Linked DNA regions of Homo sapiens. The protein of the gene in region 3 purifies or fractionates together with the protein of the main gene of each other region. This does not show direct contact. Each region holds a gene or a part of one and is shown on either strand. Other genes may lie near its edges. The genes, in order: CNOT1, CNOT9, RC3H2, CNOT7, DDX21, IGF2BP1 and UPF1.

Region 1 (4,748 bases), on a different chromosome or scaffold from region 3:
GCTGGGATTACAGGCATGTGCTACCACGCCCCACTAATTTATGTATTTTTTTAGTAGAGAAGTGGCTTCACCATGTTGGCTAGGCTGGTCTCAAACTCCTGGCCTCAAGTGATCTACCTGCCTTGGCCTCCCAAAGTGCTGGGATTAGAGGTGTGAGCCACCGCGTCTGGCCTGCTTTACTGATTTTAAGGCATGTTCACAATAAACTGATAAGGTGTCTAGGATATTTTTGTCTTAAAAGTGAGGAAGCTGTTAAGACTGTTTCAAGATCACAGCTTGTTCATAAGTAGAGTCAGAACTTAAAATGCATTTGCCAAATGCACTGCATTTTCTACTATCCTGTCTGTCCACATCAACTTTCAAGTCTTTTTCCTTCTATTCCCCCCACCCCCCCACCCACCTCCATTAATAGACTGCTTCCCCACAACAAAGAGAAATGATGGATCAGGCAGCTGCTCAATTAGCTCAGGACAATTGTGAGTTGGCTTGCTGTTTTATTCAGAAGACTGCAGTAGAAAAAGCAGGCCCTGAGATGGACAAGAGATTAGCAACTGTAAGTGTTTAGAATTTGCCTTTTAAGATTTTCTTTTTTAATTTAGGGAAGTGCCTTATAACAAGAACCTCAGTGACTTTTTTTGTTTGCAGGAATTTGAGCTGAGAAAACATGCTAGGCAAGAAGGACGCAGATACTGTGATCCTGTTGTTTTAACATATCAAGCTGAACGGATGCCAGAGCAAATCAGGCTGAAAGTGAGAATTGGGGCTCTGTCTTTCCCCGTCCCATCTTTGTTTTATTTTTAATGTTGTTGTTGATTGAACTCCTTACTGGAATTAGGACAGCAGGGTTAAATATTGTTTATGAGAAAACATCTTAACTTGATAGCATTTCACTGAATGGCTGCCTGTGGAGGAGGTATGGAAATAGCTCTAAATTCCCTTGCTCCTCCAGAGTTGTTGAAGTGTTATTACTCTAAGGAGTTCATGTGCCTGCTAGTTTTCATGTTTCCCAACTTGGGCTTCTCACATTAATGGTTGCTTATTGTTCCCAGTGAGACAGTGAGAAATCTGATAATATTTACCAGCTTCAAGGGAGAATTGCACTGGCATCGTCCCATGTGAGGCATTTTCCAAGAGAAACTCTCAGTTAATTTATAAATGAGGTGACTCTTAGCAGGATTCAGGGAAATGAGAAGCCCTCTTCTGAACTGCATTTGTGTGTGCGTGCATGCTTAATCATGCTGTTATATGTTGTAATGACTCTTGTGTCCCTGAGCTTACCCACATGCAGACTTTCCACTTTCAAAACAGTTTATTTTGATTATTGAGTGAATTCTGTCAAAATAGGTTTTCTTCTTTCAAGGTTGGTGGTGTGGACCCAAAGCAGTTGGCTGTTTACGAAGAGTTTGCACGCAATGTTCCTGGCTTCTTACCTACAAATGACTTAAGTCAGCCCACGGGATTTTTAGCCCAGCCCATGAAGGTAAATGTGTTTTAGATTAAATTGAGTGTTTTGCCAATTAATTTAAATGTTTTTGACATTTAATATATGTTTTTGACTTGCTTCCTGGGAGAATAATTTACAGGGGAAAAAACACCTATAGTTTTTGAGTTGTAGGTATTCTTTGTGTCCAATTAAGTATGACATACAGGGGATTAAAGAAAAATTGACATGGGTGTGGGTGATTTAACTTTAATGTTCGGCCTAATTAGGGGAATTCTCATGGTAACATAATAACTTTCGGTTTTTTATTTTTAAATTTTATTATTTATTTTTTTGAGACAGGGTCTTTCTCTGTCACCCAGGCTGGAGTGCAGTGGCGCGATCTCAGCTCATTGCAACCTCCACCTCCCAGACTCAAGCGATCCTCCCACCTCAGCCTCCTGAGGAGCTAGGACTACAGGCGTGTGCCACCATGCTCAGCTAATTTTTGTATTTTTTGTAAAGATGGGGTTTTGCCATGTTGCCTAGACTAGACTCAAACTGCTGACCTCAAGTGATCGCCTACCTTGGCCTCCCAAAGTGCTGGGATTACAGGCCTGAGCCATTGTGCCCAGCCTTCCCATTTTTTAAATAAAAGAATTTTCTAAAATTTTCAAAGGTGTTTACAGAAAACTTGGAAATATAGGGAAAAATATTTTCCCCCGAACCGGTCGATAGTAAGTTGCTGACCTGATACCCCCATCGCTCCTGAATCCTTTGGTTTGTATTTCTTACAAAACCTTTTTCCTTTGGTTTGTATTTCTTAAAAAACCCTTTTCCTGTGTGACCATGGTACAACCATTAAGGTCAGAAATGAATACTAATAACCTTACTCCATCTAATTCATAGACCTCACTCGAGTTTCACCATGTATCCCAATAATGTATAGTAAAAGACCTGTTTTAGAATCACACATTTCTTCAGTTGTCATATTTTTAAAGTCTCCCTCAGTTCTAGCTGGTGTAGGTAACTCAGTTTTTCCTCATCTTTCATGACCATAACACTTCTGAATATTATAGGCTAATTATTTTCTAAATGACTTGATTTGTTTGTCCAGTGTATTCTCATGACTAGGTTCAGGTAATGTGTTTTTAAAAATAGGAATAGCTCAGAAGTAATGCTGTATTCTTACTCTATCCTATCAGGCTTTGACAGTTGGACTGAGTACTGTATTTTTCATGGTTTGAAACACTTACTTTCTTAGGATATAGAGGGCTTAGTAGATGGTACAAGTGGTGCTGCCCTCAGTCTGTCTCATTGTTACTAATGCTCTCTTTTATCACTTGATTATGCTGCTGTCTGCCAGGTTTTCCTCTCTCAAATGAAACACCTCTTCCCTTATGCCTGCCTTGTACTGTGCCACTTGATGGTATTAATTCTGAATAGCTCAGGAAGAAGGAAAAGAAGAGGCCCTCCATGTTTGAATGTAAAAATAAGAAAAAGGGAGTAAACATACTAGTAGACCTCTATTTGATACATGTGTCAATAAAAAACCTTAACATTCTTTTGTCTCTTGTTGGTTGTTTCCTTCTGTAAAACAGCAAGCTTGGGCAACAGATGATGTAGCTCAGATTTATGATAAGTGTATTACAGAACTGGAGCAACATCTACATGCCATCCCACCAACTTTGGCCATGAACCCTCAAGCTCAGGCTCTTCGAAGTCTCTTGGAGGTTGTAGTTTTATCTCGAAACTCTCGGGATGCCATAGCTGCTCTTGGATTGCTCCAAAAGGTTGGTTCTTAAGCTATTACTTTTAGAAAATGCTAGGTGTGTAAACATTTATTGACCTGCACCACCATCTACATATTTATGCAGTTATGCTTAAGATTTCATAATATAAATCAAGTTCTGTAAGTAGGTGATTTTTTTTTTTTCCAACGTAGAATGTAGTCATGGCAGTTTTGAATGGTAAACTTGGAAATCTTCATTTTTTTTCTTAAAGATATTCTGGAAATGTGATTTGAAGAAACTTTAAAAGGTAGCCCTTTAGAGGGGTGTGTGTGTCTGTGTGTGTGTGTGTGTGTGTGTGTGTAAGAGACAGGGTCTCTCTCTGTCAGGCTTGAGTGCAGTGATGTGATCATGGGCTTAAGTGAACCTCCCACATCACCTTCTCGAGTAGCTGGTATTACAGGTGCTCACTGCCAAGCCAAGCTAATTTTTAATTTTTTTGTAGAGACAGGTCTTGCTTTGTTGTCCAGGTCGTTCTCAATCTCCTGGGCTCAAGTGGCCCTCCCTCCTGAGCCTCCCAAAGCGCTAGGATTATAGACATGAGCCACTGAGCCCAGCTGCCCTTTAGATTTTGAGGGACAAGTTGATCCAATAATTTGGATCAGGGTAGGTAGGGAGCCCTGGATTTTAACTACAGCAGAGCCTTTTATGACAATGAAGAGCACAGAATGAACTTAAATCAGATAGAATTTAGAGTGTGTGTGATAGGCAACTGAAAGGGATGTTTGGAGAGTGGAAAGGACAGGGAGGCTTTGGAAGGTATTTGGTACTTGGCATTGAGATTTGGTTTCTGGCTGTGATAGTTGGGCCAAGCACTGTATTTTTCATGGTTTTGAACGCTTTCTTTCTCCCATAGGCTGTAGAGGGCTTACTAGATGCCACAAGTGGTGCTGATGCTGACCTTCTGCTGCGCTACAGGGAATGCCACCTCTTGGTCCTAAAAGCTCTGCAGGATGGCCGGGCATATGGGTCTCCATGGTGCAACAAACAGATCACAAGGTCAGTAGCCATCTTCGAAAAGTAGTGAGTATTGGACTGCGACTGCCTTTTGACATAGATAGTACTGTTTATGTCCAGGGGTTTCCCTTTTTTCTAGTAGGTAGGTCGGACACTTAGACTTCCTACTTCTGAGAGGTGAGAATTGTTAAGTAGTTGTTTTCCATCTGGTCTCTACCTTCTCCCCATGTTGGATATAGAAAACCAGTACCTTGTTTTGGGGAATAAATTGTAGGTCATTGTTTTAAAAGGTTACAGTGATTTCTCAGAAGTGGTATTCGTGTATAAGTATTTTAATGTCTTAAATGGAATACTCTGTATCCTAGGATTTGAAAGGAAAGCTTGGGCTATCTGTTCTATTTCATTACTGGCTGTTTTTAAATTTGGACACTGATTTGGAGTTGAATCTCAAGGCATTCTTAGTTTGGAGCAAATTTCCATTGAGTAAAATGGGCCCTTTTACAGTATGGTTAAGCCTATATGAGTAAAGATATTGAACTTTTTCTAGGTGCCTAATTGAATGTCGAGATGAATATAAATAT
Region 2 (4,748 bases), on a different chromosome or scaffold from region 3:
ATAACAAAGTACTGCCAAATGAGAATGTAAGCCGGGTGGTGTGTGCCCATAGTCCCAGCTACTTGGGAGGCTAAGGAGGGAGGACACTTCACCCCAGGAGTTCCAGGCTACTGTGTGCTATGAAGGCACCTGTGAATGGCCACTGGACTCCAGCTTGAGCAACATAGCAAGACTTTGTCTATTAAGAGAGAGAGAGAATGTAGTCACATGTAAATGCAGGATATTATTCACTAGAAGGAAAAATTAAGATAGTATGGGAAGTATCTTAAATTTTGACTCTTGAGTAGTCGTATGCTAGAAATGTTTAGTGTAGTAGGCTTTTGTGATTCTTTTTTTTTTTTTTGAGATAGAGTTTTGCTCTTGTTGCCCAGGCTGGTGTGCAATAGCGAGATCTCAGCTCACAGCAATCTCCGCCTCCTGGGTTCAAGCAATTCTCCTGCCTCAACCTCCCAAGTAGCTGGGATTACAGGCATTAGCCACGACGCCTGGCTAATTTTTTTTTTTTTTTTTTGTATTTTTAGTAGAGATGGGGTTTCTTCATGTTGGTCAGCCTGGTCTCGAACTCCTGACCTCAGGTGATCTGCCCGCCTCAGCCCCCAAAGTGCTGGGATTACAGGCATGAGCCACTGCGCCCGACCTTGCTGTTGTCATTCTTGATGGAATACATCCTAACATCTTCATATATTCATTACCGCTACCATTGAGCATAATTTCTTTTTTCTCTCCTCTAATAAATAAGGACAGAAGTACCACACAGGATTATTCTAAAGATTAAGTAAGAATAACAAAATGCGGCCGGGTACTGTGGCTCATGCCTGTAATCCCAGCACTTTGGGAGGCCAAGGCGGATAGATCACCTGAGGTCAAGAGTTCCAGACCAGCCTGGCCAACGTGGTGAAACCTCATCTCTACTAAAAATACAAAAATTAGCTGGGCATGGTGGCAGGCGCCTGTAATCCCAGCTACTCAGGAGGCTGAGGCGGGAGAATCACTTGAACCCAGGATGTGGAGGTTGCAGTGAGCCAAAATCGTGCCATTGCACTTCAGCCTGGGAGACAAGAGCAAGACTCCATCTTTAAAAAAAAATGAAAGAAAGAATAACAAAATGCTCAGTGGTTGGCTAGATTCACTCACTGATATGTGACTTGTTCCCAGACTTCAGCTTTGGGAATTTAATTCCCAAATTAAAGGCTCACACACCTATAATCCCAGCACTTTGGGAGGCCAAGGCAGGAGGATCACTTGAGGCCGGGAGTTCAAGACCAGCCTTGGCAACACAGTAGGAACCTATCTCTACAAAAAATGTTTAAAAATTTTCCAGGCTGCAGTGAGCCATGATCATGCTACCGCACTTCAGCTTAGGCGACATAGTGAGACCCTGTCTCAAAGGAAAAAGAAAACTACAAATCTTTGCATGCCATAGGTATTCTGTAATGGATGTTATGCTTGTGAAACAACCGGAGGTAAGCCTTTAGGGGATGTGTTTTTGTTTTGTTTTGTTTTTAATTTCCCACTGATTTCCACTGACAATTCTAGCATCCCTAAACACTTGTCTTTCTCTCACTTTCCGCCTAACCAGCAGCATCATTAGTTATTTTACATCTTTTTATTGAAGCTGTCATGGACTGCCAGATGCCTTCCTTTTTGGCAAGTAGAAAGAACACTGCACTCTAAAGGATTTAATTCACTTTCTCCTCCCGAGTCTCCTGATGAAGCTTTAGGCAAATTGCCTAACTTATCTTTCCTTATTCACTTTCATTTTTTAAAAGTTATTTTGAAAAAATACATTCTGGGCCGGGCATGGTGGCTCATGCCTGTAATCCCAGCACTTTGGGAGGCTGAGGCAGGTGGATCATAAGGTCAGGAGTTCGAGACCAGCCTGGCCAACGTAGTGAAACCCCGTCTTTGCTAAAAATAGAAAAATTAGCCTGGCGTCATGGCATGCGCTTGTAATCCCAGCTACTTGGGAGGCTGAGGCAGGACAATCGCTTGAACCTGGGAGGCGCAGGTTATAGTGAGCTGAGATTGTGCCATTGCACTCGAGCCTGGGCAACAAGAGCGAAACTCCATCTTAAAAAAAAAAAAAAAAAAAAGATACATTCTGGCTCTTATAAAATTATGAAGGTAAGCTAATTTAGTACTTCCAGCACTATTAGAAAGTTCATTTTCTTGGAATACCATGCTGACACCCAAATCCACGTGTTGATCTCCAGACTTGGGAAAATAATCTCTATTTCAGTCTGATTCCATTCTTTATGTATTGGCAGGAAAATAAACAGCTATTTTGGCCCTTAAACATAAAGTTACATTGATAATTTGGCTATTTTCTGTTTAAGAAACCATCAGCATCAATTTTTTAGTTTACTCAGAGAAGGAAATCATTTTCTTTACCATTTATAGATAAATGTCATGTTTTATTTAAAATAATTTATAAACATCTTTATACTTTTCACATTATGTGTTAAAATCTTTCAGAAATAGAAGACCAACTTAAACTGTCAGTACCCTGTGTGACACTTGGAGTTAACCATTGGTAACTTACTTTGGTAAATACCTTATCTGTATGTTAAGCTTTCTTGGGGAAAAAAGGTGTCATTTGAAATACATTTTCCATATACAAATCATTAAACAGAAAAGGAGGGAGAGTTACCACCTAAATTTTGATAATATGAAAGTTTTTTAACACACTTATTAAAAGAACAGGACTGTTGACTTTATTTTTTTATTTTATTTTATGTTTTTGAGACAGGATCTCGCTTTGTTACCCAGGCTGGAGTGCAGTGGTGTGATCTTGGCTCACCGCAACCTCGACCTTCTGGGTTCAGTCGATTCTCCCACCTCAGCCTCTTGAGTAGCTGGGATTACAGGCAAACGACACCACACCAGGCTAATTTTTGTATTTTTAGTAGGGGCAGGGTTTCACTGTGTTGAAACTCCTGACCTCAAGTGATCCACCAGCCTCAGCCTCCCAAAGTGCTGGGATTACAGGTGTGAACCTGTCTCTGTGCCTGGCCAGGACTGTTGACTTTAGCAGGTTACAATTAATAATCTACGGTAATGTACTATAGAGCTTTTTTCTATTCTTGGAAGTGTTAAGGATAACTCATAATCTAAATCAGATTTCTCATGATGATTCTATGTGTCCAGGTATGTAATTGAGCTCACTGTGTATCCAAATCCAGCTGTTAATGAGTTCTGTGCTAAGGGAATATTAAATTTAAGAAAGTTTTTTTGGGTTCTTAAGAGTAATTTCTTCAACTTGGAGGAGTATTTGTGCTTTCTATCCTTGAGACCAGATAGAACTCATCGATTCTAGAGAGAAGTAGAGTTTCAGTCTCATTCTGCTGTACACTGGCTGTGTGACCTTGAGCACATTAAACCTCTATTAACCTGTTTCCTCTTAGAATTTTGAGAATAAAATGATGTAATCCACAGTGCCTGAAACATGGTATGCTCAATAAATATTACTGCATATTAATAATTTCTGGAAAAGGCAGACCTAATCTATAGTAGCAGAAAACACCCATGATTGCCTCAGGCTGAGTATGGGGTTTACTGAAAAGGGCATTAAAGAACTTTTTGGGGTGAATGGATCTATATCTTCATTATGGTAGCAGTTACTTAGGTGTATAAATTTCTCAAAAATCTATTGAAGCGTACACTTAAAATGAGTTCACTTTTATTGTATGCAAATTATACGTCAAAGTTTTTTTTTTAAAAAAAGAGCCTCTTAGATTAGACTCTCACAACTAAGAACTAAATAATTTCTAAGATTTTAGAGTTGCCTGAGACTGACAATTATTTAATATAGTTCCTTCACTTTAACAATGAGAAAATTGAGGTTTGGAAAGTTAAATGACTTATCCTAGGTCACACAATTCTAGAAAGAGCAAAACTGGATTTTGAAGTCACTTCAGGCTCCCACGCCAGTGTGTGTTCCAATTATATACACATGTAGTTCCTTGCAAATTGAGGTCTTTCCTGTTCTTCAATTTGATAAACAGATTCTTAATCCTGGGTACATGGATACATTGCAGGAACTCTGTGAACTCCTTAAAATTATGTGTAGGTTTTCGTGTTTTTGCAGTTGTGTATTTTTCTGAGTAAAAGATCCACAATTTTCTTTTTTCTTTTCTTTTTTCTTTTTTTTTTTTTTTTTGAGATGAGTCTTGCTCTGTAGCTCAGGCTGGAGTACAGTGGCTCAGGCTGGAGTACAGTGGTGCAATCTCCGCTCACTGCAAGCTCCGCTTCCCGGGTTCACGCCATTCTGCCTCAGCCTCCCAAGTAGCTGGGACTACAGGTGCCTGCCACCACACCTGGCTAATTTTTTTGTAGTTTTAGTAGAGATGGGATTTCACCATGTTAGCCAGGATGGTCTCACACTCCTGACCTTGTGATCCTCCCACCTCGGCCTCCCAAAGTGCTGGGATTACAGGCGTGAGCCACCGTGCCGGACTTCATTTGATTCTTAAAGGGTCTGGGCCTCAAAAAATGTCAACCTCTGCTCTCTTGGTTGGTATCCTGCAATTATTATTAATGCTTCAAATAAGGTAATTTCCAGTAGAGAAGTCATAGATTAATTTGCTTGCCTGTCAGTGAGCAATGTGTGCTACTAGATTGAGTTCCATATCAGCCACAGCCTTAGAAATGTATTAGTAAATTAAAAATTCAAAGAGTTGTAGCATCTGAACTAGGAATCATTAGAGGTGATCGTTACAGAGTGGCATGAGGAGTAAATCTGCCTGTTG
Region 3 (4,748 bases):
TTATTGTTCTTGGCATTACCAAACAAGTTTGTGTACCAGGATGATTTTAATTTAATCTGGTGTTTTCAGTACTGTTATATTTGGAGAAAACCATTAATTTCTTTTTTAAGTTTCTTCTGGTTTATTCCCCATCCCCAGAAGTTCTGATATTAAAATTTTTAAAATCTTTTCATTATAAAAAATTTCAAACATATACAAGTATAGAGAGAATAATATGATAAACTCCATGTACCCAACACCCAGGTTCCACGGTTATCAACTCAGTCAGTACTGTCTTATTTATACCCCCTCTTCCCCCTGGATTGTTTTGAAGTAATCCTAGGCATTATATTTTTTAACCCATAAATATTTCAATAAAGCATTGAATTTTTAAACTAGATCCAAATAGGTCTTGTCAAACTTAGACTTCTTCAAAGCAGGTAAATATCTTGACAACAGAGTGACAGAGCTGCCACTTGCTTGCTAGATGCCACTTGCTTGCTAGATGCCACTTGTATTTTCTTTTTTGATATACAATTATGCTTCAGGAAATGAGTATTTCCCTGAGACTCCGATCTGCTGAGTTCGACTTGAGAAAAGTTTTTTAACTTTTTTGCCCTTGAGTTTTTTTATCTGAATAATTAGTAAACTAGATTTAATGATTCTTATAACTTTAGTATTCTGGTCCTATAAGTATTCCTTATTCACAGTCCCTTTAAAATTTATTCATTTCCCCTTTATCTCCAGAGCCTCCTTTGAATTCCTTTTGTTCTTTGATACTGCATAATTTATCAGTTATATTCCCTTATTTGCACATGTTCTTTTTCTCAAGAAAATTATAAACTCAGCTTGGTGTAGTGGCTCATGCCTATAATCCCAGCACTTTGGAAGATCGAAGTGGGTGGATTGCTTGAGCCCAGGAGTTTGATACCAGCCTAGGCAATATGGCAAAACTTCATCTCTACTAAAAATACAAAAAGATTGTCTGGGCATAGTGGCGTGTGCCTATAGTCCCAGCTACTTGGGAAGCAGAGCTGGGAAAATCACCTGAGCCTGGGAAGTCGAGGCTGCTAGTGAGCTGTGATCACCCCACTGCATGTTAGCCTGGGCGGTGGGAGTGAGACCCTGTCTCAAAAGAAAAAAGAAAATTATAAACTCCTTTAGGATATGGACTGTGATCTCTGTGTGTATCTATGTATTTGTTTTCTCTTACTTTTTTTTTTCTTGGTGCACCCCATACCATGTTAGTACCATACTATAAATATTTGTTAATTGGTTTTGATAGTATTAGTCAAATGTTCCATATGAGCACTTAAAGGACAAAGTGAAAAGGGAAAGCATGCCATTTTCTATTGTAAAAATACCATTTCTTGCTTATTACAGTTTTTTATATTAGTTATTGAAAAAGTATAATTGTTTGCTATGAAGTCCTCTGAATTCTATAATAGTTACTTTATATTAGTTACAAGCTTGTAAATTTAAGCTTCTTACTAATTGGCTTTATTTATTTTTTTTTAACCAGTTCTCAGAGAGTGTGAGTGGTACAAAATTTGAAGAAGATCATCTTTCCCATTATTCTCCCTGGTCTTGTGGCACCATAGGCTCCTGTATAAATGCCATTGATTCAGAGCCCAAAGATGTCATTGCTAATTCAAATGCTGTGTTAATGGTATGATTTTGCTGGGGTTGCAGGGGTTGGAGGTGAGAGATGATGCATGTTCACTCATGTTGTAGAATGAATGTTTTCTATTCATTCATTCATATTGTTGCCTTATAACTCAGTAGCAGCAGGGTTATATTTAGGTAAGTCTGAAATAAATTATATTTAATATTTAAGTTATTTGAACATTGGTGGTTTACTGGTAGTTTGTTGGATTATCGTTGAGTCTAGAGCTAGTTTTAAATTAACCAAAAAACCTAATTACATGTCTTTTGATAGCATATATTTACTAGCTGAAGTAATTGCCAACAGTCCTTTTATTGATTTTCTTTGGTTTACATAGGACCTGGACAGTGGTGATGTTAAGAGAAGAGTACATTTATTTGAAACCCAGAGAAGGACAAAAGAAGAAGATCCAATAATTCCCTTTAGTGATGGACCCATCATCTCAAAATGGGGTGCGATTTCCAGATCTTCCCGTACAGGTTACCATACCACAGATCCTGTCCAGGCCACTGCTTCCCAAGGAAGTGCGACTAAGCCCATCAGTGTATCAGGTAATCCATTTAGATAATACCTAGCCTGATATGTTCTAAGCACTATGCCTTTTTTTTTTTTTTTTTTAATTGAGACAGAGTCTCACTCTGTTGCCCAGACTGGAATGCAGTGGTGTGATCTTGGCTCACTGCAACCTCCATCCTGGGTTCAAGCGATTCTCCTGCCTCAGCCTCCCAAGTAGCTGGGATTATAGACATGCACCACCATGCCTGGCTAATTTTTGTATTTTTAGTAGAGAGTATTTTGTATTTTAGTTTCGCCATGTTGGCCAGGCTGGTCTGGAACTCCTGGCCTCATGTGATCCACCCGCCTCAGCCTCGCAAAGTGCTGGGATTACATATGTGAGCCACTGTGCCTGTCCTAAGCACTGTGCTTTTTAATCCCCAACTTGTGAAATGGAAAACATTTCCCTCCATTTAACAACCATGGGAAACTCAGAATTAGGTGTTTAACCAGCATCATATGGCTAGTGGGATAAAATACAGATCTATTTTGAGAAGTATACATTCACCTCAGTACACTGATTTTTCACTTTTTTGACCATTGTTTCATTCTACATGTCTGTAGATTATGTCCCTTATGTCAATGCTGTTGATTCAAGGTGGAGTTCATATGGCAACGAGGCCACATCATCAGCACACTATGTTGAAAGGTAACGTTCTTCTTAATTCTATATGATTCTCCATTCTCAGACTTGTATGTATCTTAAGGGTACACATTCTACCCCCAGTTCATGAAATGTGCTTTGCTTGTTGTCTGAGCTATATAACAAATTTCTGAAAAATATTTGCATTTAAATTTGGAACGATGAGTGAAGTTTTCAGGGTTGATCTGTCACATAAAACATATGGTTATTACTGCTTTTGTTGCTTCATTCACTTCACTTTTATTACAATAAACATATTTCTCTTTAAAGGGACAGATTCATTGTTACTGATTTATCTGGTCATAGAAAGCATTCCAGTACTGGGGACCTTTTGAGCCTTGAACTTCAGCAGGTAGGCTCTGTAACTCAGCTATAAATTTTTGAGAAATAGAATGACAGTTGAAAGCTATAGTTGGAAGCTAACTTTTCTTTTTTTCCCTCCTCATATAGGCCAAGAGCAACTCATTACTTCTTCAGAGAGAGGCCAATGCTTTGGCCATGCAACAGAAGTGGAATTCCCTGGATGAAGGCCGTCACCTTACCTTAAACCTTTTAAGCAAGGAAATTGAACTAAGAAATGGAGAGGTAAAGAAACTGAACCTTTCGGCTTCATGCTTAATGTATTTGTTTTCTGCTGCTGCATCTTGGTTATACCATTACTGAGTGCATTTTGGTGTGCCTATCTCTGATGGATGATTGATTGCTTTTAAAACTTATAACAGAAATAAAATTGTAATCCCAGATTTCTTAAATAATTCTTTAACTAGATCATCGGGATTTTTGTTTTTTTGAGATGGAATCTTGCTCTATCGCCTGGAGTGCAATGGCACGATCTTGGCTCACTGCAGCCTCTGGCTCTCAGGTTCAAGCGATTCTCCTGCCTCAGCTTCCCGAGTAGCTGGGATTACAGGCACCCACCACCATGCCCAGCTAATTTTTGTGTTTTTAGTAGAGACAGGGTTTCACCATGTTGGCTAAGCTGGTCTTGAACTCCTGACCTCAAGTGATCTGCTCGCCTCACCTTCCCAAAGTGCTAGGATTACAGGTGTGAGCCCCCGTGCCTGGCTGATCATTGGGATTTTTTACTTTAATTTAAAAGGGAAACCCCAGGTTCCACAGGTATAAAATCAGTATTTTTCTTTTTTTTTTTTTTTTTTTATTGATCATTCTTGGGTGTTTCTCACAGAGGGGGATTTGGCAGGGTCATAGGACAATAGTGGAGGGAAGGTCAGCAGATAAACAAGTGAACAAAGGTCTCTGGTTTTCCTAGGCAGAGGACCCTGCGGCCTTCCGCAGCGTTTGTGTCCCTGGGTACTTGAGATTAGGGAGTGGTGATGACTCTTAATGAGCATGCTGCCTTCAAGCATCTGTTTAACAAAGCACATCTTGCACCGCCCTTAAGCCATTTAACTCTGAGTGGACACAGCACATGTTTCAGAGAGCACAGGGTTGGAGGTAAGGTCACAGATCAACAGGATCCCAAGGCAGAAGAATTTTTCTTAGTACAGAACAAAATGAAAAGTCTCCCATGTCTACTTCTTTCTACACAGACACGGCTACCATCCGATTTCTCAATCTTTTCCCCACCTTTCCCCCCTTTCTATTCCACAAAACCGCCATTGTCATCATGGCCCGTTCTCAATGAGCTGTTGGGCACACCTCCCAGACGGGGTGGTGGCTGGGCAGAGGGGCTCCTCACTTCCCAGTAGGGGCGGCCGGGCAGAGGCGCCCCTCACCTCCCGGATGGGGCGGCTGGCCAGGCGGGGGGCTGACCCCCCCACCTCCCTCCCGGACGGGGCGGCTGGCCGGGCAGAGGGGCTCCTCACTTCCCAGTAGGGGCGGCAGGGCAGAGGCGCCCCTCACCTCCCGGACAGGGCGGCTGGCCGGGTTGGGAGCTGACCCCTC
Region 4 (4,748 bases), on a different chromosome or scaffold from region 3:
GTTATAGATGTAAGCAGAAGAACAGCTTGTTTGAAGTAATGGCATGTTTGAATGTTGTCTTTCTCTTTCTTCTGCCAGGGAGGACATGTATGCCCAGGACTCTATAGAGCTACTAACAACATCTGGTATCCAGTTTAAAAAACATGAGGAGGAAGGAATTGAAACCCAGTACTTTGCAGAACTTCTTATGACTTCTGGAGTGGTCCTCTGTGAAGGGGTCAAATGGTTGTCATTTCATAGGTAAAACGACTACATTGAAAATGGCATTTGTTTTTCCATCTCATACTTGCTCCACACTTACTTGGGTCACTATGTTAGCAATTTCAGGTTTAATTCTGGAAAGAGTTGACTGCCATATAGAGTTGTCTCCTAACTCTTAGGAGGCTAATGTTGGTCTGCTTAAAGGTTAATTTAAAATATGGGATCCATTTTTGCCTGTGAGAAGCATGTTGCATAGTGGAAACAGTACAGGTTCTCTAAAAAGTGAAAGACCCTGGTTTAAATCCAGCGGCGCCATTTGGAATTGGTGTTACCCAGGGTTTTCTTTTACTATTTCTACACCTTAGTTTTTAATGTTCTACGGGGGAAACCATTCACTTACATTTACACAACGTTATTGAGTATTTACCATATGGCAGGCACTGAGATGAGATTCTAGGAACTAAGGTGTGAATAAAACAGATGAAAATTATTTTCCTCATGGAGTTTATATTCTCATGGGGGTGGGCAGACAGTTTTTAAAAATGGAGTTCACGTTGTGATTTGTTAGATAGTGATAAGTACTATCTCAAAACAGCAAAGAAAATGCTAGGGATGGGTGTGGAGATGGATTTTAATTTTTTTTTAAAGTGATAAGGCATCCCTTAGAAGAAATAGCTTGAAGACTTGTTTTAATGGTCACCAAAATACTTTATAAACAGTAAATTCTCAATAAGTGGTGGTTCTAAATTCTTTATTGTTATGAAACTAGATTATTTAAGAGTGTTTCTGGTAAGGAAACTATTCCGATTTTGTGAAATAGACTTCCAGGTATGAAAAAGAGTTTTCCCATCTAAGTAAACTAAACTGACGTTCCAGGGACTAAAAGTAACCTTCAGAATGATATTGGCTTTTGTTAGGTTTTGAAAAAGCATTGTGTTACATAGATGTTAATACTCTCATACTTGGTCCACTTCACACATGTATCTTAAATCTGAGTCTCCTGCATGTTTAGTTTCTGTCTCTGATCTGTGGGATGTTTATAGTGAAGGACTGTTCATGTGGGCAACTTTGATGTGTACTAACCAGAAATGGTTGAGTTGTAGGTACTGAACACACTCATTCTTACCTATCATCTTTTTTGTCTCTTCTGCACTTGAACTTGTACCTTAGGAAACATAACTTAAGACTCTTGATACAAATACCTTTTTTTTAGTCATTTTTCTTCCCTAGATATGAAGGTGCAAAAGAACTGGAAAGTATTGCCCTTCCCTTTTACTGTATATGACATACCCTTTCATTTAAAAAATACTCTGACAAAATACAGTGCACTAGGCACTGGGTATTAAGATGAACAAAAACAAACAGGGTTCATTCATGTCTTCTTGGAGTTTAGAATCTAAGTTAGACTGATATATTTGAATATTTATCAAGATAGAAGATTTTATTCCATTAAATATCATTAGTTGTTTTCCTCATATTCTAATTTCAAGTAATGAAGAATAGTTTAAGAAGTTTATAAATCCTAAGCGCTAATATAATCTTTTAATGTTAGTGAGCAAATGTCATATAGGCTTCCTGTTAGAGGTCCTTGGAAGGAAAGGTAGACAAGGGACGGACGTGTCTAAGTGGCCTGGGAGTGTAGGGAGACAGAAAGCTGTGCGAAAGGCCGGACAAAGGGAGAAGAGTTCTGGATTTGAGAGTGTAGGAGTTTGCATTTTATGATCAAGAGAGTAGTTATTTTTTTACTACCCTTCACTTCTTCCATGTGCAGCATTTCCATTAATAATGACTCTTAGGGAGCCACACTGAAAGGAAGAGAATTGTGAAGGAAGAAAAGGGAGAGACTACTTAACACAGTCATTTAAGAGAAGTGAAAATACCTTGTTACAGTCTTATTCTTTGGATAAAGTATATGACCACCTTATGTAAAAGTGGGATGACTTGCATTACTTTTGTCTACCGAATGCCAGTTCTCTTGCTACCTTTGCTAACTCTTCTGGCCAAGTTTCCATTCATCTTTATTTCTCCATTTCCATAGTTACTTTAAAAAATATTTTGAGACATCTGTGGGCAGCTTGATACTCTTCTTGGTGTTCTCTATTCAGATATCAACAAAATAGTATTTTATTGACCATAGGCTGGTTTGGTAGTGTAGGTCTGTGTTGATATCTCTGAATAATAAAGTGATAAAGTTCTTAATACTGTAAGATGACGACATTTTCTCATAGTTCTCAATATGTTTGTTTTCTCTGTTCTTGTGTGCACTTCTCTTTAATGTTTTTGGGAGGGCTCTAGTGTGACTTGCTTAAATTTGAATCAGAAAAACTTTTTTTTTTAATCTTTATAGTATTTATATGTCCCTCTTCTCTATTCTTTTAACCCTTTTATAGCGGTTACGACTTTGGCTACTTAATCAAAATCCTAACCAACTCTAACTTGCCTGAAGAAGAACTTGACTTCTTTGAGATCCTTCGATTGTTTTTTCCTGTCATTTATGATGTGAAGTACCTCATGAAGAGCTGCAAAAATCTCAAAGTAAGGCTTCGGATGGCATTATCTACAGCAGCACACTGTTCAGACCAAGTGACTGTCATGCGAGCCTAGGCTGGGATGTTGTTTTAAACCATATTTTAAAGTATTACAGTGAATGCAATTATATTATCTGGTCATGTGATTTTTTTTCTTGCATACATAATTTGTAGGGAATCCTTTTTTCAGAGCTTCAGTATGTCTTGGCAGAAGGCAGAATTTTCAACACATTTCAGGCTTAGGTCCGGTTCTTGTCACTGCTTGCCAGATTGAAAATCACAAACCAAAACACAAATCTGAGGACATTGAGGCTCTCATATGCACGCCATTGTGAGTTGTTACTTTCTCCCAAGACGCATAGAATCTGTTCTTACAAGGTGGAATCTAAGGTGGCCAGCGATATGCAGATGTATTTAGTAGTGTGGCAAAAGTTTTTCTTTCCTTTTGGCTTATCTTGGCTAGAAATTATTTTGTCAGTTCTAGTGATAGGATAATGCTCCTAGGATTAAACTATATAGCTAAAAGATTTTTCTGTGGCCAAAAGATGTCAGCTTGTTACAGTTAAGTACTATGGGAAATGTGTAGGTCCTGCCTAGATAGTAGTAACATTTTGACGCTGCATAACATGTATTTTTAAATTCTAAACATTAATTCTTTTTTTGTTTTTGAGACGGAGCCTTGCTCTTGTCGCCCAGGCTGGAGTGCAGTGGCGTGGTCTCGGCTCACTGCAACCTCCGCCTCCCGGGTTCAAGTGATTCTCCTGCCTCAGCCTCCTGTGTAGCTGGAATTAACAGGTGTCCATCACCACACCCAGCTAAATTTCGTATTTTTAGTAGAGTCGGGGTTTTACCGTGTTGGTCACGCTGGTCTTAACAGATAACTGAAGATGAGAAGCTTTCTTTTGGCCAGTGTTTACCTTTAATACATGATATGGTCAGCATATGACTAGAGAAATTTTCAAGAAAGATTATTTTATGTTTGTAGCAGTAGACTTCTGTGTAATTTGAGGGGACTTCCAGGAAGTGAACTTGCAGTAGGGTATCCCTTGCTTGAGAAATTCAGCCCACCCTGTGAAAGCACTGCATGCTGAGGCCTACATGTTTTCATCTGACTTTTTTTTTAATTGACATGTCTGTATAATGATAGTTTTCAGGAACAGGGAACCAAATTATTGCTCATCATGTGGTTGTTACTGGGAAGTTTCTAAGTACAGATATTCTGAATGTGTCCTGAGTAAGCTGCTGTGTTAAAATTCAGGTTAACGACAAAGGTGCTTTTTGACCTATAGTCAGCCATGCTGTTCTATTCAGTTCTAGTTCTGTTCTCCTAAGCAGCTGCTAACGATACCTAATCCTCGTGCTATTTTTAGCGCAGAAGCAACTGCTGTGCAAAGCCTTGTTTCAAGCTGTGATGCACAGAAGGGCCATTTTGCCGGTGGAGGCCTTAACAAGTTAGAGAAGAATTTTTGTTTTGTTGTTGGTGTTTCTTTCCTTCACGCTCTACTTATTCTCCCCTCCCTTTACTCTCCTTGCCTGTCCTCCCACTTTCTTTCCTTCTGTTACTGTCTTTCTCTTTCTTTCTTTCCACTCTTTCCACTCTCATCTTTCTTTTTTAATCTTAGGAGTATTAACATAGGTGGATTATAGCAGACCACTCTAAGGAGTTGTGTGCATATACTCGTCTTAACTAAGAAAACCATAGTGAAGCATTTAGCATACTCTTAATGATTATTCATAATGGCTTTGTTTTGTAAAAATTAAGTGAAAACTACAAATGGATGGTGGGAAGTTTAAGAAAATATGAAAAAAATGGTGTTATACTAGCTTTTCAGTTTTATAATTATTACTGGATTGATAGACTATGAGTGTACTTGATAAATATTACCCTATATGTGGTCTGCTTCCTTCCCATATCTAGGAGAGTATTTACCTGTCATATGCCCTAAAACATGATGAAAATACATTTTCCCAATTAGGATCTTGTTTTCTATTAAATGATACTTTTTCCGCATTCAACAA
Region 5 (3,500 bases), on a different chromosome or scaffold from region 3:
TGCCTGCCACCACGCCCGGCTAATTTTTTGTATTTTTAGTAGAGACGGGGTTTTACCGTGTTAGCCAGGATGGTCTCGATCTCCTGCCCTTGTGATCTGCCCGCCTCAGCCTCCCAAAGTGCTGGGATTACAGGCGTGAGCCACTGCGCCTGGCCAAAACTATGATTTTTTTAAATTCCTTAAATCCCTTCCTAATTTATACATCTGCTCTAATAATAAAGCTCCAAGGCCTTGAACTGGGAAGTAATGGAATATAAGAGTAGAGACTAACATTTGGCCCTTGAGCCCCAAGGAAAGAAAGCCTGCCTACATCAAGAAAGAAGCAACCATGCAGAAAGAGGGACAGACCCAAGGTCCTGACAGACAAGAGGAACCTTGAATTCTGACTTCCTATTTCCTAGAGCCCAAATGGACTGTCTTTTTGGGTTCAATAATAAATTACTTTTGTAGCCCCTAGATAAATATAAATAGATAAAAGTCCTAAGAACGATATACAGGATTTGCCTATCATCAAGCAGGACCATGTTCTTGACCATGTTTAAACAATGGCAAAAGAAAATCCCCATAAACGACTATCCTATATAGAGAAGCCAGATGTCAAGGTGAAAAGAAATCCAATCAGAGCAGTCAACAATGGGTGGCATTATACCTCCCTCACTTTTTGAATGTACTCACATTGACCTCCATAGGGAGTTCCACCATAAAAACAAGCCACTGACAGCTTTTTTGTGATGTCACTGAAGTCTTTGCTTACTTGATTTGCCAACTCTCTTGTAGGTGCAAGAACCAGTACCTGATAAAGAAAAATAATTGAATTCAAATTACTGTGTAGTATTTGTTTCTTAATCTAGTCCTTAAAGAACAGCATTCCAGGAAAAGAACGACTTGAACAAGGTCTAACGCTGATGATGACGATAACATTATCTAATATTTTTGTCTAATAGATCTGAGACTCTACTAAATTCTTTATATATATTATTCTGATTCAATTCTTGCAACCTTTTGAGCTAGGTATTAGAGGATAAATAACTTGACTAAACCCCAAAGGCTAAGAAGGAGCAGAGCCTTCAAGCAATTGGGATCCAAAACCTATAGTCTTAACCTCTACAGTAGAGAAAATTTGAAGCAGAACAAAATCAGAGAAGTAAGGTAGAGCCAACAATGTAAGGGGCTTTGAATCCTAGAGCAATATGAATTTGATCTATATATATATAAAACATGAAACTGCTGGCCAGGCGCAATGGCTCATGCCTATAATCCTAGCACTTTGGGAGGCCAAGGTGGGTGGTCAGGAGTTCAAGACCAGCCTGGCCAACATGGTGAAAGTCTATCTCTACTAAAAATACAAATGAGCCAGGCGTGGTGGCTCACACTTGTAATCCCAACTACTTGGGATGTTGAGGCGGGAGGATCACTTAAACCTGCGAGGCAGAGGTTAAGATTGCACCACCGCACTCCAACCTGGGCGACAAAGCGAGACTTTGTCTCAAAAAAAAAAAAAAAAAAAAGTCCAGGTGCAGTGGCTCAAGCCTATAATTCCAGCACTTTGGGAGGCTGAGGTGGGTGGATCACTTGACGTCAGGAGTTCCAGACCAGCCTGGCCAACATGGTGAAACCCCATCTCTACTAAAAATACAAAATTAGCCAGGCATGGTGGTACACGCCTGTAATCCCAGCTACTTGGGAGGCTAAGGCAGGAGAATTGCTTGAACTGCTACAGGTCCTCAAAAATAGGGTAATGGTATGAAACTAATATGATTCAAGAACACCTAATACATTCATCTAAAATGTGCTAGGGATATAGCAGTAAACAAATTAACAAAGGGGGAGCATGGACACTGGAAGGCCAGTGAGCAAGTGAGGTTAGGCCAGAAAGACAACTGCAAGAACCCACAGCCAAAGTGACTACATGGGCATTCGCAGTCATTTCAATGAGGTTAATGTTTGTTAAATGTCAAGTTCTCTAGAAATGAACCCAATGGACTCACCCTAATATGGGGGCTTGGCGTTTTCACCTCTGACTTGCCCTTCTTTCCATTCATGCTTTTCTTTTTTTTTTTTTTTTTTTCTTGAGACGGAGTCTTGCTCTATCGCCCAGGCTGGAGTGCAGTGGTGCATCTCGGCTCACTGCAAGCTCCGCCTCCTGGATTCACGCCATTCTCCTGCCTCAGCCTCCCAAGTAGTTGGGACTACACGCGCCCGCCACCACGCCCGGCTAATTTTTTGTATTTTTATTAGAGATGGGCTTTCATGTTGTTAGCCAGGATGGTCTCGATCTCCTGACCTCGTGATCCGCCCACCTCGGGCTCCCAAAGTGCTGGGATTACAGGTGTGAGCCACCGCCCATTCATGCTTTTCTACCAAAAATGCTTTCTCCATCTAGGCAAAAATGGTCAGACACTTGACGAAAGCTATGAGCCCCAGGGACATCTAATGGTTTGAAGGAAATATGATAGCATTAATTATATAGATGATCAAAACTGTGGGAAAGATTAAAATATTGAAATATACAGAGAATGATCTGTATATATTAATTATTAAATATAAAAGAATTGTCCTGGATTACTTTCACATAAAGATCCACAGTAAATAGAATGGGTGACTATAAGAACTCAATAAAAAATAGTAGGGTATGTACACAATGCCCAAGTGGTGGTTTTTCCTATGCTGACTGAGAGCCCTTGTATTTAAGACAGTTACCTGAGGGGCACGGCCTCTCTTCCTGTCTTGCAGTTCCCCATGAAGTTTCTCAATCAAAGGGATGGCAAAGGAGAATGTCTTCCCAGTTCCTGTCCGTGCCTGTGCAATTAAGTCCTTCCCGCTGTAAACATGATGGAATGTCTTTGCTTGTATAGGAAATAGGAAGGTCACTCCTCGGCCTATGAACAAATTAACTGTGTTATCTCACACTGCAATTCTTAAAACATTAGCCATACTGACATACTGAAGTATACTACTCATGCTTCTGGTCCTGCAGAATTAAGGAATTCTACCTTCTGGTCAACATCTACAAAGTTAGGCTCAAATACGTATATTTTTTAAGAGACAAGGTCTTGCTTTGTCGCCCATGCTGGAGTACAGTGGTGTGATCATAACTCACTTGCAGCCTTGAACTCCTGGGCTCAAGTGATCCTCCTGCCTCAGCCTGATGGACAGCTGGGATTACAGGTGCAAGCCATCATACCTGGCTCAGAAATATTCTGATAGTAAAGAATCTGCTTGACTGAAAAATATCAACAAACTTTAAAGCATCCAATTATAGTAAATATTTGAAGTCTCATCCATAAGCCTGAAAATCTGGTGCTTTGCAATCCAACTGTGCTGCTCCTGATTTAGGAAGCACCTACTTGAGTAACTGTGACTCCAGCTACTTCAGAAGCAGATTATTAAATGAATTCTGGGTTTATGCCTATAAATTAGGCTCATTAATCTAGAGATGCCTCAGAAGTGAAAGAGATAAAACATTAATATGGCATCACCTAATTGCTTAATTTCACCAG
Region 6 (3,500 bases), on a different chromosome or scaffold from region 3:
CTCAGGCTCAGGGAAGAATCTATGGCAAACTCAAGGAGGAGAACTTCTTTGGTCCCAAGGAGGAAGTGAAGCTGGAGACCCACATACGTGTGCCAGCATCAGCAGCTGGCCGGGTCATTGGCAAAGGTGGAAAAACGGTGAGCTGTGAGGGCCAGGTTGAAAGCCCTGGGCCTTGGTCTCCAATCTCAGCAGCTCTCTCTGGTCTCCTGTACTGCTCAACCTCAGGACTCCTGATTTGCTCATTTACTTGATTCTACTCCCCAAGCTCAGGTCCTGACTCTTCCAGGTTCTCCCCACTAGTCACCCTGGCTCCTCCCTCCAACCCCACCCATGCTTTCTTGATGGCACCCTGAGCTCCTCTCTGGCCACCCCCAGGTGAACGAGTTGCAGAATTTGACGGCAGCTGAGGTGGTAGTACCAAGAGACCAGACCCCTGATGAGAACGACCAGGTCATCGTGAAAATCATCGGACATTTCTATGCCAGTCAGGTACATATGGTGCTCCCCCATTGAGGGAGGGCTGCAGGAGCCCAGGGAGCAGAGAAGCAGAGACTCTATAGAGGTTGACCTTCATGACGTTGACAAGTCCTGGGGCCTCAGCCACATCTGCCTGCCTCTAGGCTAGGTTATTGCCCTCTTTCAGGTGCAGAAGTGGGATGTGTAGATGACATATTACCTCTTATTACTCTCTAGGAAAAGTGATTTGACAAGTTTAATGTACATATATTGTGTATAACATTATATATATAAATAACATATATATGAATATATATTATATGTAAATATATATATATATGTTCTACGTTAGTCCCTCCCTAACCCCTTTCTGCACTGGTTAAGAAAGAAGATTAGTTTTGTTCATGGAATAATGATAACAGTACTAACACCCTGGATTGATGGCATTTTTGAAATGTAGTCCCTCTGCCTTTCGCAGAATGGCTGTTCTCTCCCTGGTTTCTGCTCTTCCACCCTCCCATTCCTTTCCCAGAACTCATCATTGCCGTTCAGCACTCGGACAGGCTCCAGAGCATGGAAGGGAAGGCCAATATCAGGTTCAAATTTTGCTGAACCTCAGCAAGGCAAGCAAACAGGTGGTTGGCAGCTAATGGTGTTTTCCTAAAGTCTTAAATCCATCATTGTTAGAACTGGAAAGGAACTTTGGAGACTGTTGATCACAGTTCCTACAATTCATAGAAGATATCCAGATCTTAGCAGGCTTGTGGTCTGCTGGGGCTGCTAGAGCAATTGGGGCAAACTGGCTCTTGGTTTTTTGGCTTCCAGTGCCCATATAGTATAGCATCAAGTATGAAGGTTTTGGATCCAGGGAGCTTTGACCTCAAACTTCACATACATAGCCTTTCTGCTATGTGACCTTGGATAAGTAACTTTCTCTGATAACCCTTTGAGAAGTATTAACAAGAGGCTTTAGTTACATCTCAACTATATATATATATAAAATAACAAAAAAGTATTAATAAGAGCCATAATAATAATAATATCTAAGATTTATCGATGCCTTTGTATACCCAGCACTGTTTTATGTGGCTTATGTATATTAACTCATTTAATTCCCACAACAATTTCATTTTATAAATGAAGCTTAAGAGGGTAAATGTGAATCTTTAATTCAGCGTTTTTTTTTTAAAGAGAGTAAAGGATACCTCCAAAGATGCATAAAGCCAGGATATATTAATATTAAACACTGAAGCAATTTTAGCTGATCAGAATGAGAATTAAATGAAAAGCTATGTAAAACATCAAGCCAGGGTTGATGGAGTTGGACCTCTTATTGACTTACACATTATTTTCCCAACCTAGATCAACTTCCTCTTTTTTTTTTTTTTTTTGTGACAGGGTCTCGCTCTGCCATCCAGGCTGGAGGGCAGTGGTGTGACCACAGCTCACTGCAGCCTCTACCTCCCAGGCTCAAGTGATCCTCCCACCTCAGGCCCCCCAAGTAGCTGGGACTACAGGCAGGTACCACCACGCTCAGCTAATTTTTGTATTTTTTTGTAGTGATGAGGTTTCACCATGTGGCCCAGGCTGGTTTCAAACTCCTAGGCTCAAGTGATGTCACTGCTTCAGCCTCCCAAAGTGCTGGGATTACAGGCATGAGCCACAATGCCCAGCCTCAGCTGCTTCTTTAACCAGGAAAGGAAGCACTCATTTATGGAAAGGAGACATTCTGGTCTTCATTCTATGAAGTGAATCCCATTTTGCAGTTTATTTCCTTTATAAAACTTTATTCTTAGGGAAGAACCTTTTAAGAAGGAAATAATAAAAGATTGGGTATTTTGTCCATTTTTACAGTGAAGCTTATGTATTTATGCTTTTTGACTAACCCATATCTGGACTTTATTTTTTATTTTTACTTTTTTTTTTTTTTGAGATGGAGTCTCGCTGTGTTGTCCAGGGTGGAGTGCAGTGGCACAATCTTAGTTCACTGCAACTTCCGCCTCCCCTGTTCTAGTGATTCTCCTGCCTCAGCCACTCAAGTAGCTGGGATTACAGGCGCACGTCACCACGCTCGGCTAATTTTTGTATTTTTAATAAAGATGGGGTTTCACCGTGTTGGCCAGTCTGCTCTCGAACTCCTGACCTCAGGTGATTCACCCGCCTCAGCTCCCCAAAGCGCTAGGATTACAGGCATGAGCCACCGTGCACCTGGCCATATCTAGACATATTATTCCTTTTCCTGGGGTATTAAAATGAAGCGTGGATTTGTGATGATGTCTTCTAAGTTACGACCCTCTACAACAGGAGTCCCCAAACCCCGGGCCACGGACTGGTACCGGGCCACACAGCAGGAGGTGAGCGGCAGACGAGTGGGCATTACCTCCTGAGCCCCGCTTCCTGTCAGATCAGGGCGGCATTAGATTCTCATGGGAGGGCTAACCCTGTTGTGAAGTGCTCGAGGGATGCGCAGTGCATGTGAAGGATCTAGGTTGCACACTCCTTATGAGAATCTACTGCATGCTGATTTGAGGTTTCATCCTGAAACCACTTCCCCACCCCCACCTCCATCCGTGGAAGAAAAATTGTTTTCCATGAAACCAGTTCCTGGTGCCAGAACAGTTGGGGACCACTGCTCTGCAATATGTAATATATTTCTGCCTAGAAACTCTAGGCATTCTGTTTTGCGTTTGGTAATGTTTATCAACTTTGTCAAGTTTTAAATTCTGATGAATGGATTGATACTACTGTTTCTCCTTCCTTCAAGTCCCCCAACCCCATCTCCCACTTAACACCCACCACGTTTGCTGTATTTTCCAGGGGATACTCAGGCTCCACTGGAGGCAAAGAAATGTAAGGTCACCCCAACCCTCATTCTTCCTCTTTATCTTTCTTCTGAGTCCTGTGTGACCTGTTCTGTTTATTGCCTGTGTCTGGACCTGATGACCTCTCTTCCGTGGAAGGCTGTCTCCTTGGAGGTCTCACACCCACTCTCTTGCCTGTTCTTGCTGCAGATGGCTCAACGGAAGATCCGAGACATCCTGGCC
Region 7 (4,134 bases), on a different chromosome or scaffold from region 3:
TGATGAGGAAACTGAGGTCCCGCGGTGGTCCCCGGAGCAGACAGGATGGGGTAGGGTGGGGTGAGGAGCCACCCTGACTAGCAGTGAAGGGCACAGGCCAAGCTGGCCCTGAGGGCCTATGACCCCCACCAGGCACAGCACACATTTCCAGATACCACCCCTCCAGTGCAGCTCCCTGGGGAGAGCCCCCTCCCATCCTTCTCCTTGAGGCTGGGGTGGGGCCAGGCCTGCTCCAGGGGGGCTTGCCTTTTAATACTGGGACAGCCCCGTCACCCCGCCATGCTGGTAAGCCCGCTCTCCCTGGTACGTGGAGTCCTGTGAGAGCGCCACGTCGATTTGTGATTTAAACTCGTCACCAAGGTAACTGTCCTGAAAGACAAGGTCAGGAGGTAAGCAAGCCACAGGCCAAGGGTGCTCACATCCACCCAGCCCTCAGCAGCCCCAGAGAAAAGAATGGAAAACCCGTCCCCAAACTAAGACCCAGGAGACCCACTCTGATGACCCCAGCCCAGGGACAGGTAATTCAGACAGTGGACATGGGCCAGGCCAGCTCTCTGGGGCTCTTCAGAGGGAATGTTTCAGGTGCATAGCCCCACCCTCACTCAGGTAAGTCCCGTCCCAGGGGCGGGCTCACCTGGGACAGCTCCGGCTGGGAGAGGCCGGGCTGGCTCATCTGGGAAGGCTGGCTCATGGAGATGTAGCCCTGCGTCAGGGCGCCCTGAGAGAAGGGCTGTGACGCCACATCCTGGCTGGCTTGGCTGTTGGGGAGGTTAGTCTGGCTGGGTCCAGGAAGCCCAAAGCGGTTCTTCTGGCGTCCCCCACGACCAGTCTTGCCTTTCGGGGTGCCTCGCCCTGAAAGACAGCAGTCCAGGGTGATCCGAAGGAGGCCAGGGCCTCGCAGACAAGCACACCCTCAAGAGCTCTCAGGAGGGCCACACCCAGCCGCAGCCACAGATGCTCACCTGCAGCAGGCCCGTTGGCTTGTCCAAAATAGCCAGGCGGTGGCATGGGTGGCATGACCAGGTTGAAGGGGATGGGAATGTTCATGGCAGCCACGTGGCTAGGGCCGGCACTGATCATGCCAATCTGGTCATGGGTCTGGAAGTACATGCTGGAAGGCCGGCCTGCAAATCACAGTGGAACACGGCAGGTGTCACCTGCCTCGGTCAAACCCCAGCGATACCCCACCCACCCCACCAGCCAGTCAGCCGGAGCTGCACATCTGTCCTGGCTCTGCCCAGGCTGAAGATGCGGATTCGCAGGACTCCATGTTAACTACAGCAGCCTGCCTGGGGCTGGGTGCTTGGGCAGGCACCTTCCCCGAGGAGAGTCTGCTGGGAATCATTGGCCTACACAGATCTTAAAAACTGAAAATTGGGGCCGGGCGTGTTGGCTCAAGCCTATAATCCCAGCACTCTGGGAAGCCGAGGTGGACCACCTGAGATCAGGAGTTTGAGACCAGCCAGGCCAACATGGCGAAACCTCGTTTCTACTAAAAACACAAAAACTAGCCGGGCATGGTGGTGGGTGCTTGTAATCCCAGCTACTCGGGAGGCCAAGGCAGGAGAATCGCTTGAACCCAGAGGGGGAGGTTGCAGTGAGCCAAGATCACACCACTGTACTCCAGCTTGGGCAACAGAGCGAGACTCGGTCTCCAAAAAAAAAAAAAAAAAAAAAAACACCTGCAAATTGGCCAGGTGCAGTGACTCACGCCTGTAATCCCAGCACTTTGGGAGGCTGAGCAGAAGGACTGCTTGAGGCAGGAGTTTGAGACCAGCCTGGACAACATAGGGAGACCCTGTCTCTAAACAAAAAAAAGAAAATAAATGAAAATCACCCTGCATTTACCAAAGGAAAAAAAAAATCCTTTTTATGAAAATGTTCTATTTGTACTACATGCAGTCCCTGCCCTACCAAAAGGCAAGAAAAAGCTAACTAGCTTGATCACCAGGAAACACAAATGAATAAACTCTGGTTAAAGACAAACACCCCAGGAGTGTTCCGGGGCTAGAGATGCCCTAGGGGCGGGGAGGCCAAGGGAGCCAGGCACCGCCCTTGAGGGGAAGGAAAGATGGGGGCACCTAAAGCTGCAGCCATGGGAACGGCCAGCATCCCGGTGTGAGGACAAGGGGTCGGCCAGGTCCCCTGCTGAGCGACTCACCCTGGCTGCTCCGATCATAGACGGAGCCTGGGATGATGGCCTCCCGGGCATCATACATGGCTGTGGTCATGAAGCGGGCTCCCTGCGAAGGTTTAGATAGGTGAGGAATTTGTCATCTCAACAGAAGGAACAACTTCCCACGGGCCCGGTGGCCTGGGAGGTGGCAGGTATGCAGCTGTGAGGTGTTGACACTGTGCCAGGGGCTCTCCCTGGAGACAGGAGGGAGCTGCTGTCTCATGGCCTCTGGGTCTCGCCTGCCCTCCTCGGCAGACCTGGGCTCTGATGCTGACCCTTGGGCCTCAGCTCAGGAAGCTTCACACCCCCTCACTACCAGATCACCCCGGGCTTGCAAAGCTTCCAACTGCCCGTGTCCAAGGTCCCAGGCTGCTGCATGCAGCACAGCAGCCCTGAGCCCAATTCCCAGAGGCCACCCAGGACTTAGCGGCCCCAAGCCAAAAATGCCACACACGGCTCGGGAGACAAGAAGTGGGCTGGCCCACCCTCCCCTAGGAGAGCCCACCCTCCCCTAGGAGAGCCCTCCCTCAGCTCACGGGCACACGGGCCAAGCTGGCACGTTCCCAGCAGTGTTTTGGGCCCGGGTTTCTCCGTGCTGCCCTGCTGTCCTGTGCAGGCGCTCACCGGGTTGATAGTGTTGACCAGCTTCCGTGGCTTGCTGAACTGCATGAGGCTCTCACGCAGGTTGTTGAGCGGCCCCTCCACCAGCACCTTCTGCTCCTTATAGTAGTTCAGCAGGTGGTTCCAGAGCGGCTGCTTTGATAGTGCCTTCGGGTTGCCCACAATGATGACGCCATACCTGCAACAAGGGCGCAGTGCTGAGGACGCAGGTGGAGAGCTGCCCGTCTCACAGGACGGTCCAAGAGGCAAGGCTGCATTCACTCAGAACCCAAATCCAAGGCAACAGAGGCGTGGACCGGGCAGCAGGCAGGCTGCCAGCCACAGGGACAGGCCCCAAAGCCCAATGCCAAGCCACTGACCCTGCACACGGGTTGATTTTGTGGCCGACTCTAAGCAGCCCCATGGCAGACACCTGGCTGGGTGGATACGTTTGGAGAGAAGACCTGCTGTCAAGAGAGTCGGCCTTCCAGGCACCGGGGCACACGCGGCCCCACAGGGCCCCCAGCAGGCCGGGGCACTGACCCGATGCCCAGCTCCTCTAGCCCACCTCACGAAGCTGTGGGGGGACCCACCCAATACTGCCCACCAAACAAGAGGGCGCCTTAGAAAGAGGGAGTAACCAATGACAAAGCCATGGTGACCTAGAGGAGAACCACCGCGCATATGAGCCGGAAGGAGCACCAGGCTCTCTCCCTGTGCTGGGTGGAGCCACAGGCCAGGTCCCCCCAACTTCCAGCTGGTGAATGGGTCCTTGCTGTCTAGTGTTTTTTTTTTTCCTTTGGAGACAGAGTTTTGCTCTTGTTGCCCAGTGGCTGGAGTGTAATGGCGCAATCTCGGCTCACCACAACCTCCTCCTCCCAGGTACAAGCGATTCTCCTGTTTCAGCCTCCCAAGTAGCTCAGATTACAGGCATGTGCCACCACGCCCGGCTCATTTTTTTGTATTTAGTAGAGAGGAGGTTTCACCATGTTAGGCTGGTCGAGAACACCTGACCTCAGGTGATCCACCTGCCTCGGCCTCCCAAAGTGCTGGGATTACATGTGTGAGACACCATGCCTGGCCTGATGTCTAGTTTTATGTGGGATGACAGAATGGACACCTTGTTCTCGGGGTCCCTTCTGCTATCATCAGTTCACAAAAGTTGTATTTTAGAACCAAAAATAGTGGACAGGACCAAAACTTACAGCCTCTCAGATTAAACAACTTGACAGACACACACAAGATTTATTTTGAATCAGACCAGAAGGGCCTGGAAAAATACGTCCTGCTGGGCTGAGGCACAGGGGCCACAGCAAACCCCCAGGACACGGAAACAAAGATCTCTCCAGTGAGACATC

The links.
Region 1: the proteins of RC3H2 (region 3) and CNOT1 purify together in Homo sapiens (affinity purification with mass spectrometry; 2 studies listed by BioGRID, with this or other methods). This does not show direct contact.
Region 2: the proteins of RC3H2 (region 3) and CNOT9 purify together in Homo sapiens (affinity purification with mass spectrometry, with the first as the bait; 2 studies listed by BioGRID). This does not show direct contact.
Region 4: the proteins of RC3H2 (region 3) and CNOT7 purify together in Homo sapiens (affinity purification with mass spectrometry; 2 studies listed by BioGRID, with this or other methods). This does not show direct contact.
Region 5: the proteins of RC3H2 (region 3) and DDX21 purify together in Homo sapiens (affinity purification with mass spectrometry, with the first as the bait; 2 studies listed by BioGRID). This does not show direct contact.
Region 6: the proteins of RC3H2 (region 3) and IGF2BP1 purify together in Homo sapiens (affinity purification with mass spectrometry, with the first as the bait; 2 studies listed by BioGRID). This does not show direct contact.
Region 7: the proteins of RC3H2 (region 3) and UPF1 purify together in Homo sapiens (affinity purification with mass spectrometry, with the first as the bait; 2 studies listed by BioGRID). This does not show direct contact.

The regions. Positions count from the first base shown.
Region 1 is NC_000016.10:58,538,233-58,542,980, reverse strand, and holds part of CNOT1 (CCR4-NOT transcription complex subunit 1), read left to right. Parts: intron 1-412; coding exon 413-553; intron 554-645; coding exon 646-750; intron 751-1,360; coding exon 1,361-1,480; intron 1,481-3,021; coding exon 3,022-3,213; intron 3,214-4,066; coding exon 4,067-4,209; intron 4,210-4,714; coding exon 4,715-4,748.
Region 2 is NC_000002.12:218,571,246-218,575,993, forward strand, and holds part of CNOT9 (CCR4-NOT transcription complex subunit 9), read left to right. Parts: intron 1-4,748. UniProt on the Homo sapiens protein: Component of the CCR4-NOT complex which is one of the major cellular mRNA deadenylases and is linked to various cellular processes including bulk mRNA degradation, miRNA-mediated repression, translational repression during translational initiation and general transcription regulation.
Region 3 is NC_000009.12:122,852,632-122,857,379, reverse strand, and holds part of RC3H2 (roquin-2), read left to right. Parts: intron 1-1,501; coding exon 1,502-1,648; intron 1,649-1,982; coding exon 1,983-2,196; intron 2,197-2,764; coding exon 2,765-2,849; intron 2,850-3,113; coding exon 3,114-3,195; intron 3,196-3,293; coding exon 3,294-3,428; coding exon of another isoform or gene 3,429-3,506; exon of another isoform or gene 3,507-3,586; intron 3,587-4,748. UniProt on the Homo sapiens protein: Post-transcriptional repressor of mRNAs containing a conserved stem loop motif, called constitutive decay element (CDE), which is often located in the 3'-UTR, as in HMGXB3, ICOS, IER3, NFKBID, NFKBIZ, PPP1R10, TNF and in many more mRNAs.
Region 4 is NC_000008.11:17,232,704-17,237,451, reverse strand, and holds part of CNOT7 (CCR4-NOT transcription complex subunit 7), read left to right. Parts: intron 1-78; coding exon 79-240; intron 241-2,591; coding exon 2,592-2,736; intron 2,737-4,748. UniProt on the Homo sapiens protein: Has 3'-5' poly(A) exoribonuclease activity for synthetic poly(A) RNA substrate. Its function seems to be partially redundant with that of CNOT8.
Region 5 is NC_000010.11:68,962,670-68,966,169, reverse strand, and holds part of DDX21 (nucleolar RNA helicase 2), read right to left. Parts: intron 2,880-3,500; coding exon 2,701-2,879; intron 794-2,700; coding exon 676-793; intron 1-675.
Region 6 is NC_000017.11:49,045,885-49,049,384, forward strand, and holds part of IGF2BP1 (insulin-like growth factor 2 mRNA-binding protein 1), read left to right. Parts: intron 1-5; coding exon 6-137; intron 138-375; coding exon 376-489; intron 490-3,467; coding exon 3,468-3,500. UniProt on the Homo sapiens protein: RNA-binding factor that recruits target transcripts to cytoplasmic protein-RNA complexes (mRNPs). This transcript 'caging' into mRNPs allows mRNA transport and transient storage.
Region 7 is NC_000019.10:18,862,279-18,866,412, reverse strand, and holds part of UPF1 (regulator of nonsense transcripts 1), read right to left. Parts: intron 2,976-4,134; coding exon 2,801-2,975; intron 2,244-2,800; coding exon 2,162-2,243; intron 1,125-2,161; coding exon 963-1,124; intron 853-962; coding exon 635-852; intron 370-634; coding exon 250-369; 3' UTR 247-249; intron 1-246. UniProt on the Homo sapiens protein: RNA-dependent helicase required for nonsense-mediated decay (NMD) of aberrant mRNAs containing premature stop codons and modulates the expression level of normal mRNAs.